2 separate regions of the Homo sapiens genome follow, and region 1 is linked to region 2. The links come from fine-mapping of genetic effects on gene expression. Tissue or cell type: monocytes. Region 2 holds a variant in brackets; the other region holds the start of a gene. All regions are shown on one strand. Distances are from middle to middle.

The links. PIP is the estimated chance that this variant, and not a neighbour inherited with it, causes the effect.
Region 1: FOXJ3 starts here. The variant in region 2 is fine-mapped to the expression of FOXJ3 in monocytes (BLUEPRINT, PIP 0.91).

What each region holds. Positions count from the first base shown.
Region 1 is chr1:42,332,194-42,337,342 of GRCh38, reverse strand. FOXJ3 (forkhead box J3) reads left to right here and starts at 2,108. Exons shown (of 13, transcript NM_014947.5): 1 at 2,108-2,284. RefSeq lists a silencer at 2,072-2,591 and an enhancer at 2,176-3,133.
Region 2 is chr1:42,188,512-42,193,660 of GRCh38, reverse strand. It overlaps FOXJ3 (forkhead box J3), which reads left to right. Exons shown (of 13, transcript NM_014947.5): 9 at 1,942-2,358; 10 at 4,257-4,358; 11 at 4,733-4,924. Among named protein-coding and RNA genes, the nearest start is that of GUCA2A, 26 kb to the right of the region's middle. The variant A/C (reference allele first, on the strand shown) is at 2,136.

The sequences.
Region 1 (5,149 bases), 140 kb before region 2:
TGTACCTGGGTAATGGAGCCTCTGGCTTCCACCATTGTCCTCTTAGTTCTGCTCTTAGCACGGCGGCCAGAGTGATCTTTTGAAAGCACGAGTCAGATCCTATCACTCCTCTGTTCAAAGCCCAGCAGTGGTTCTGTTTCAGCCAAGATTCCTACAGCTCCCTACTTGAGACCCCTCTCTCTGATCTTATCTCCTCATTAGGCTCCCATTTGCTCACGGCTCCAACCGTCCTGGCCTTCTCATTATTTTTAACACTTCCCGAGGCTTTTGTCTCCAGGCCTTTCCACCAGCTAGCTGTTCCTTCTGCCTGGGACACTCTTCCCCAGACAACTGCATGGCTGACTCCCTCAGCTCTTTCAGGTCTCCGATTTAAAGTCATTTTATAAATGAGGCCCATGCTGACGGCTCTATTTAAAATTGCAGGCCAGGCGCGGTGGCTCAGGCCTGTAATGCCAGCACTTTGGGAGGCCGAAGAGCGCGGATCACTTTTGAGTTCGGGAGTTTGAGACCAGCCTGGCCAACATGGTGAAACCCCATCTCTACTAAAAATACAAAAATTAGCCGGGTGTGGTAGCGCGCGCCTGTAATCCCAGCTACTTAGGAGGCTGAGGCAGGAGAATCACTTGAACCCGGGAGTTGCAGTGAGCTGAGATCGCGCCACTGCACTCCAGCCTGGGCGGGAGAGCAGGATTCCCTCTTAAAAAAAAATTGCAAACCCCCTTCCTCCAGTTTTCCTCATACCCCTTACCCTGGTGTATTTTTTTTTCCCCATATGCCTTCTAACATATTACATAATTCTCTTACATTTATCATCTTTCTCCTTATATTAGAATGAAAGCTCCAACAGGGAAGGGTATTTGTTTTCTCTCTCTCTTCTGTTTACTGATACATCCCAAGCACTAAAATAGTGTCTGGCAACCTTAGTAGTGATTGGCAAATATTTGTTGAGTGAATGAGTACATGAATCTTCAGAATCTTGCTAGTCTTATAAAGAAAAGGAATATGTGAATACTTTGAATCTCCAGTGCCTAGAAATGCTTGACCAAACGGCAGGTGTTCAATGTTTACTGAAGGAATTGTGTGCTCAGATCTGCTGGAGGTCTTTATCTGAACCCTTTGAGACTATGTCAAAAAAGTACCCAGGGCCAATTCACTCATGCCTCTCCTTTTCCTCTCATCCAATCAGCCTAGTATTCATCTAACAAATATCTAAGTCTCCAAATATTGAGCCACCCATTGTGAGTTCAAAAGCGTGTTTGGCGCTGCAGGGGAATATGTGACTAACGCGAATGAAGCAACAGCAAATACTACACTGGAATGTAATTAAGTGTGAAATTATAGGGCAGATTATCAGTGCTAATAGTTTAGAGAAAGAATCAGTGAAGACTGACGTAGAAGTAAATTCCAAAGTTCACTCGTCGACCAAACTACCCTTCTAAACGCTCCACCTACTGATAGTAGTACCATAACCTGGGTAGCTACCTTGAGAATTAGAAGGGCCTTTAGAGGTCCAACTCCTTTAAGAAAGAAAGAAAGACCAGGCACGGGAAAGGCCTCCGCAGACATGAGTCTAGCACCTGGGACTCATGAAGTTCTGAAAAGAGGGGTGTCCTGAAGGTCCAAGGCGCCTTTGTTGGGGGTCCCGGAATCCGCGGTGTGCCAGGTCGGAAAAGGCGTCCGCTTTCCTGGAGAGGAGGCTAAGGTGCCGGGCGCTTCGGTGAGGTGGCGGATGTTGGGGGGCGGGGGAGGGCAGAAGGCACCATTCCTTCGGGGCATGGGGCCCCAGGTATCCGTGGGCAGGGTCCAAAGCCACCGATCCCTACTGTCCTCAACTGCGGGGTTGCCTCCGCCGCCTTTGCTCCCAGACGCCACTCCGAGGCACAAGGACCCCAAGTCGCTCGGAACTGCCGGCCGCTAGATGACACCGGCTGCGCCGATGCAGAGCCTCGGGAGTCTCAGGGCACTACTTGTCCCAGCGGAGGGATCCTGCGTGCGTCGAAGCGACCGTGACCGCGCAGGGACTTGACGCCGCTGACGCCGGGCCGGCGGCGCAGCGACGCCGCAGGAGGCGGTGGCGGCGAGGGCGGGCGGGGGATGCGGGTCGGGAAGTAGTTCCGGGTGCGCGGCCCCGGATGTTGGCTGCTCTTGCTGCCGCCGCCGCTCTCGGGGCTGCTCGGGGCCTCGACCGCTCGCAGTAGGCACCGTTGGGACCTTTCCCGGGGGGGCGGAGACGCACGGAGCGGCCGGGGGCTCGGCCGGGCCGTCCCGGCCTGCGCAGCCTGAGGTAAGTGCCCCCCGCCAGGGCGGCCGGGCCTGGGCGGCGGGCGAGGAGGCGGGGCTGTGGCATCTCCCGGGACGGAGGCAGGGGCTGTCCTCCGCGAGACGCCCTCTCTCTTCCAGCCGCAGCCGCGTTGCGGGGTGGGCGGCGGGTGGGGCAGGGGGCCTGGGCCCCGGCTGGGGCCTGGCGGACGCCGAGGGCTGGGTCCTTCCCTCCCCCGCGGCGCTTCTCAGCTGCTGCTGCCCCTCAGCTGGGAAGCAGCGGCTTCGCGTCTCCCGCCCCTCCCCCAGGCGGGGCACCGGGGAACCAGACGTGGATCCCGGGGGCGCCTAGTCCGAGGGCAGCGACCGTCTCCTTCCCTCCATGACCTGTCCCTTGGCCTGGGCTAGCCCCCGACCCCGGCACTCTGCGGCTTCTTCCCTTTAAGCTTGGGGGCGCTTTTCTGCCGGCAGGGCGGGCTGTACCTCACGCCTTGGAGTGGCCCTTTGGGGAGAGGAGGCCCATGCGAGGGTGCTTGCGTTCCCGCCCATCCTGTGTCTGTGTCCTTTGCTGGGATTAGGGCAAAGGCAGCCGTTCCATGCGGACGTGTTGCTGTCCTGTGTGTGTTGCATCCTGCCCACGTGGTAGAGTGTCTCCCGCCCCCCCTCCCAGCTCCATTTTTGCAGCTGGTGAGGAGGGAGGTTAACGGGATGGTTTTTCCTCTGTGATTTCCTCCGGGTGGCGTGGAAGGTGTTAGGGTCAGTTTGCTTTGCCGAGGCCGGCTGTTGGTTAGATGAAGAATCGAGAGTTGTACTCTGAAATTGAGGCCAGTAGGGGACATAACAGGGCTTAGTTTCATTAACATCTTTTTTCCTCTTCCATTAGCTGCTCTTATTCTTTTCTCTGTTGCTTAATTATAGAGAATAAGCGCTTGCTACCGATGCATTCAGGTGTATAGTTTTCATTTCTCTGTTTTACTTTTTGTGTGTCTGGTTAGCAAAGGTTTTACTATTCCGTGTTGGTGCATTCCACGTCTGTGTTGTCCCTGGTTGGATTCCTGAATGAGTTAGAGCCATTCACTCTAATTCCTGAAGGAGTTAGAGATTGGTGGGCACCTTTTTGGTCTTTTTCTGAGATTTATTTGTGTGTGTTTTCTTCCTTCTATTTTGTTTCCCAGTGAAAAAGCGTGATGTCATAGGAGCGTTATATGCATAGCTCTTTTTCTCACAAGGCAGCACTAGTTTCACCTAGTCACTTATTTTGTAGAAGCTCTTTTACTTCACTTTTCCTCTTACTCTGTTGAGTACCCATTGCACACTCTTTTTTTGAAACTGGTTTGAAACATGGTTTGAGTAGTTTTTTTCTTAATGTCTCTTCCAGATTAGGGTTTCCATCTTCTGTTTTGCTGTTTTGAGACCACAGATTGTTCCCGCAATAACAGTGAGAGAAGCCTATTCCTCCTGGTCCCTAGCAAATATTTATAGAAAAGCAGTAACTCCTCTCTTTTTCTGAGTGGTATATATTATATAGACGTGATTAAGTTTTTTAGTTTCTTAGATAAATAGGAGGATTTCTCTTTTTGCTTTTGTGTCTCAGAATTGAGGTGAATCTTCTTGGTTTTGTGCTGCCGAGGACAAAACTGGGAAGTTTCTCATGCTTTCATTAGATTTTTTTTGGATGAGGCTAGAACGTGTTTATTTTGGCTCTTTTTTGTTCATTAGTTTGGGTAAAATAAAAAAACTTAATGTTTCAAAGTCACTTACTAGATTCCAAAGTGGCCTGCATTCTCACTTTTTCACATTGTACATTCTTTGAGTATATTTTTGACATTTTTTTCCTTTTATCTGGTACAGTTCGTATATTCCCTTTCCTTCTATGTAGAATGAAAATATTTAAATATAGATTTTAGATTATATTTTTTCATTATGCTAAGTATGGGTGGGGCAGTGGAAAATGGAGAATGTTGTTCTGATACATACTGAGGCTTTTTGTTTTTTTTTGGTAAGTCAGCATTTGTGTACTTCTGTAAAGTACCGAGTTATCTATGTGTGAAGTCTGTATGAAGAGACGAATAAGATACGTGGTCTCTTGGAAAGCTTCAACTTATATCGAAAGAACAGAGTTTCTTTTTCTGTTCGGGAAACATGTACATCATTCAGAATTATCAAACTGCATCAAACTTCTCCTTGGGATAACAGTACAACCAAGGTCAAAAGTGTAAGGGACATTTGAGAAAGATACAAATTTCCAAAGGGAAAGAGGTGTATTTCAGGAGAGTGAAGGGGCCTGTGCAAAGCGAGAGAAGTGGCAATGTACAAATGATATCAAGGAGCTTGACTGTCAGATCATCTGTGTTGGTGAATAATAATAAATGAGTTTAGGATTGGTGAGGGGGTATTGATGGAGGATCTTTCAAGGATAGAGGGTTTAGTTTGATAGGGTACCACAATGGGTTCTAAAGAATGAGAGTAAGATGATGCATCTTGTTCCTGAGGAAGGTTTTTGTTTCAGCTGAGTGTCCTGGGAGTGGAGAGACTGATTAGAGTGCTTATGGAGAATTTTAGGAATAAGCTGATGAGGGTCTGATATAAGATAGTGGTTGTAGGAATAAAATAATAGCTAACATTTACTTACTGTATGACAGGTATTCTAAGCGCCTACGTTTGTTTAATTCATTAAATCTTCATAATAAGGTATTAAAATCAGAAGGGACTTTGGGCAAGTTGCTTAACCTTATGCATGTAATTATTCCCATATACAATGAACGGTTAGATGAAAGGTAGATTTTGCACTGACCAGGGATATAGATGCTAGTAAAACACATCAGTAGATGTGTGTTGGGAGGGTAGTAGTATAATGAAGAAAGAGCTTTGAGGTTTGGAATTTTGGGTC
Region 2 (5,149 bases):
TATTTATATTGATGTATACTGATGTTGTGTGTGTGAAATGGCTTTTTCTGGTTAGTATTTGAGTTTAAAGTAAGATTCATATGTTTTCCAACTTTTAAATTTTTCATCTATAAAAGTATAAAAAGAACTAATGGAAGACTTTGCTAAGCAAATCCAACCTTGGTATTCACAATAGAAAAATAAGGGCTTTGAAATAACAATGATGACAATTTCTGAAGCCCATAATTCCATTCCATCACACTATTAAAAAAAAAAAAAAAAGGAACATCGATAGGAAGTCTGGGTTCTAGTCCAGGTTCTGCCATTAAGTCAACTGAGTTTACTTCTCATCTCTGGACCTCAGTATCCCCATTTGTACAATAAAGAGGGTTGGATTAGATCAGTGATTTTCAGATTGTTCTCTTCAGAGGCCTTGGCTTTTGTAAAGATCTTAGGGACTGCAGGAGGAGAACTGTGCAGATGCAGAGGTAGACCTAGTAAGCTTCCTTCCCCAGCTTCAAAAAAAAAAACTATATTATACTTATCAGTTTTATATATTGGGCTTCTGGAGAGATATTTTGCTTTCTTTTATTTAAAAATAATTTGAGATTGAAAATGTTGATACAGATCAGACCTTGGTTCCCTTGTAAAATGCTAGGATTTTATTGAAAATTGATAAATTACTGCTTTCTTTGATCTTACAGTAATAACCCTATAGATTCCTTATATGTGACTATTTTCTAGGACCAAGGCAAGAACTTTTATTAACTCTTCTGCCTGTAAAACTTGGTAGCTTTTAAGATTATCTTGCAATGAACACAAATACAGTTTTACTACTAATGACAAATAGAATAATTTTATCTTTTTTAAAAAGCTTGATTCTTTTATTGATTGATATTATCTTGTGTTTTTTTTTTTCATTCAATAAAATTATTTTTATGTTTGGTTCAGCATAACATTGCATGGGCTACCCTTTAGGATTTGAAAATAGTCTAGTTACATAGAACCAAATGTTGCAGTAAGGTTATCTAACTACTTGGAGAACAAACATAAATTATCCTTAACATTAAACATTTTTGGCTTAATCATCATCATGGCAGCTAACATTTACAGAGCTCATCCTGCAGCTTACACCTTCACTATGTAGAAAGTAAAAAGTTCCTCTTCATAGTTTCCCTTCTTGTTAAAGAGTAAATCATAAGTGTTAGAAATAATAGTTTCTTTTAAAAACTAACTTCCTTTAAGCCTCCTTACTTTATGCTAATAACTTTTTGTTGGGCCCTATCCTGTGTAGCTGTTAAACATGCTCACAGGCACGTAGTACATTCTATGTCCTTGTACCTTAACTGAGATATTTGTGCTGGACGTGCTCACAGGCATGTTCCAGCTTGCAGCCTATGCCCCTTCCCTATTTGGCATAAACAACTTCCTCTTTTCCTTTGTCTTTCCATTACTTTTACCTATTTGGAAAAGTTTTAAACTATTAGCCAGTCGAGATTTAGTTTAGATTGTGCGGTCTTCTATCAAAGCCTTGGTCTTTATGCCTACAGAGAGCCATCCTGAGTGTGACCCCCACACCTTTCCCACTTTTCCCCGAACATTTCCTTATCTTTCAAGACTCAGTTCAGGCACTGTCTTTAAAAGAAAGGCTTCTCTATATTTTCAGCCTTCTCCTAGCTGAACAGACAAGGAGCAGTTTTCATAATCCTCTGTATACTTTAGCTTTAGTACTTAAATTGTTGGTCATAATCTTGTCTTTCTCTTCCACTTGAGGGTGGGGCATTATATTTCTTCTCAATAACCACAGAGCCTAGTGTGCAGTGGATGTTGGATTAACACTTATTAAATTGAACCAGTGTTGCTTCCTGGCATCATATGCTTTTGTTATGTTAATAATTTTACAAATGTTTGTCATAAAATACAACTGAAATCTGACCATAAATGATCTTGCTTTGTTTTTAGGTTTGATGAACATCCCTTCTGAATCTTCCCAGCAGTCCCACACTTCATGTACCTATCAGCACTCTCCCAGCAGTACAGTGAGCACTCACCCACACAGCAACCAAAGCAGCCTGTCCAACAGTCATGGCAGTGGCCTCAACACCACAGGCAGTAATTCGGTTGCACAGGTCTCACTGTCTCACCCCCAGATGCAC[A/C]CACAGCCATCTCCACATCCTCCCCATCGACCGCATGGTTTACCGCAGCATCCGCAGCGTTCCCCACACCCAGCACCACACCCACAGCAACACAGCCAGCTCCAGTCCCCTCACCCCCAGCATCCCTCTCCACATCAACACATACAGCACCATCCGAACCATCAGCATCAGACGTTAACACATCAGGCACCCCCACCCCCACAACAGGTATCCTGTAATTCTGGTAAGTTTTTGTCTCCTGGTTTGTGTTTGGCTAACTGTGAATTAGGATCTGTCCTTTGTTATTTAGAGCTCATGTAGTATTTACTACCAAAACCTCTTTACATCTGTTTCCTTGCTATAATCCTATAGTTGTAACTCATTTAATTCATAGACTGACCTGGCGACTTTCTTGATTAAAATTTATTGTGGCAACATAGGCAAACCCAGCAACCCTTGCAGGTTTTTATTTTAACTCTTGTTTATAATTTAGATACATTATCTTACATTATCCTGCCAAATCAAGTATAGATGACCACATTTTATATATAGGAAAAGTGCAACTAAAAGAATTTTAAGTAATTTGCTTAAGATCATACTGTGGTAAGTGGTAGAACTGGGGTTTATATTCTGACATGTCTGACTTCAAAGCTTATAACACCAGTTATTCTAAAAGAACTAAAATTAGCAGACATTTGCTAAGTGGGTAGGGTTTGCTCACCCAGTCGCTGCAGAGTTTGCTTTATTTTTATTTGCCAGGTCACTATTTATTAAAGGAGCCTCCTCTTCCTCTTACCCACAACAACAACAACAAATTAGTCATGGCAAATGTCCTGGTTCCTGCTCATAATTTCATTTCAGTTAACCTTTTTCCTACCCTGACCTTTTGACTACCTGAGTTGTGTTTACCTCAAGAGATCTGGATTCTAGTACTGCTTTGGCTGTTGTATTACCTAAGTGACTTAAATCATATAATTCCTTTGAACCTTGGTTTCCTTATCCATGAAGTTCTTCTTGAACTAAAGGATCTGAGTCTGGTAGACTTGCATGTTCGTGGCTCATTTGGATATTAGTTTAATCCCCTCCCACCTAACAAATTTCTTCCTAAGTTACGACTTGCTTCATGGCAGGGTCATGTTGTCTCTAGTTGATTGTTTATTTTAAAAATCCATTATTGGCAGAATTTTGTAATCAAGTAGCCAGTAGTTGATATAGCCAAGAGTTGCCTTGATGTAGCAAAAGCAAACCAACCAGCCCTTTTTATTGGTCTTTATCTTCATCCATCCGGGGGAGGTCCTAGAAACAGTGGCTTGACAGCAGTCACTGAAATGAAGAATTTTCTTCCACTATTCAGCACTGCTGTCTCATTGAAGGTAACTCTTGCTGCATGGCCTCTGACTAATGACTGGTTTGCTGACATACAGATTATGGAGTCTTAAACTCTTCTGATGTCATACCAGAGGATACCATTTCTGACTAAAAATGCCCTGACGTGGATTCATCAGCATTTCTTGCAGAGATCTCACCCTTCTTCCTTCGCTACCTTGGCAGGGGGACTATGTTAAATTTTTTTCTCCTAAGGTTGCCTTGGAAGAAGCATTTACTCTTACTATATGATCTAATCCACCTGCGTTAAGTCATTGCATTAAATTGTACTATGTGTTGCCTCTAAATGTGAACCTGCCTCTCTTGAGTTTTTTAAGGTCATAAGAAGACAGGAAAATGAACTTTATATAGGGGAAAATACAGATTTGTGTGGCATTTCCTATCTGTTCATTTATTGGTACTGTAATGTAAAGAGCAGTATCAAGTTTGATATTACTAGGTGATGTGGCAATTTGGAAACTGCTAGACTGGAGGTTAGAAGACCTGGGTTCAAGTCTTAGATTCATCATGATAACCTTGCTAAGTTATGTCACTTCTCTGGTTCAGTTTCTTTTATTTGTAAAATGGAGAGAAATAATACCTTTCTGCCTGTCTCACAGAGCAGATTGCCCAACACGTGATATAATGGGTACAAATCCCCTTGTAAGACGGGACAAGAATCAGCCAATTTCAGGAATAAGGGCAGCTCATCGTTTTCCCTTACCACACTTCACCCTTTCACCATCCAGGAATTACACTGTTGTCAATATTTTATAGGTGTTTCAAATGATTGGTATGCGACACTTGATATGCTAAAAGAAAGCTGTCGAATTGCCAGCAGTGTTAATTGGTCAGATGTAGACCTTTCACAGTTTCAAGGTGAGTGTTGGTTCTTTTTGACATATAACCAAATACACATGATCCTGTTTCTCTGCTAGATTATAACTTTCTTTGTAGTAGAAATAAACATCATCTTATATAGCATTTCTTTTGCAGTTGGTAAAATTCATAATAATTTTGGCCACTTGGTATAGCAGAGGGTCACAGACAAGTTCTGAAAGAAATTTGACCACATTTAAAATAATTGGGCTTTGAATAATTTAAAAAGGTCATTCTTCATTGCGTGGATAAATCACTACCATAAAGTGGAGTGAGTGGAAATTTTGAGAGCTGAAAAAAATTATGTCTTGCTATTTTCCTTGCAATGTTTATTGCATAACAGTGCTAACATATTTTTAATGCTTTCCTCATAGGTCTGATGGAGAGTATGAGACAGGCAGATCTCAAGAACTGGTCTTTAGACCAGGTTCAGTTTGCCGATCTTTGTTCTTCTCTTAATCAGTTCTTTACACAAACTGGCCTTATACATTCACAGAGTAATGTTCAACAAAATGTTTGTCATGGTGCCATGCATCCAACAAAACCTTCCCAACACATTGGAACAGGTATGGGGTTAGTTATCTTCTTGATTTTTCTCATTTTCTCATTCGTACGAAATTTAGTAACTGTCTTAACCAACTTGGTTTGCTGCTAATGGTGACAGTGATCTGTTTACAAATTTTTATTTATAAGAAATGAATGAAAGCAAATAATTTATATGTAGGGTATATCTTAGAAAAATTGAGGTAATGAGACTATGTTTTTCTGTTGTGATTTATATGATTGCTTTA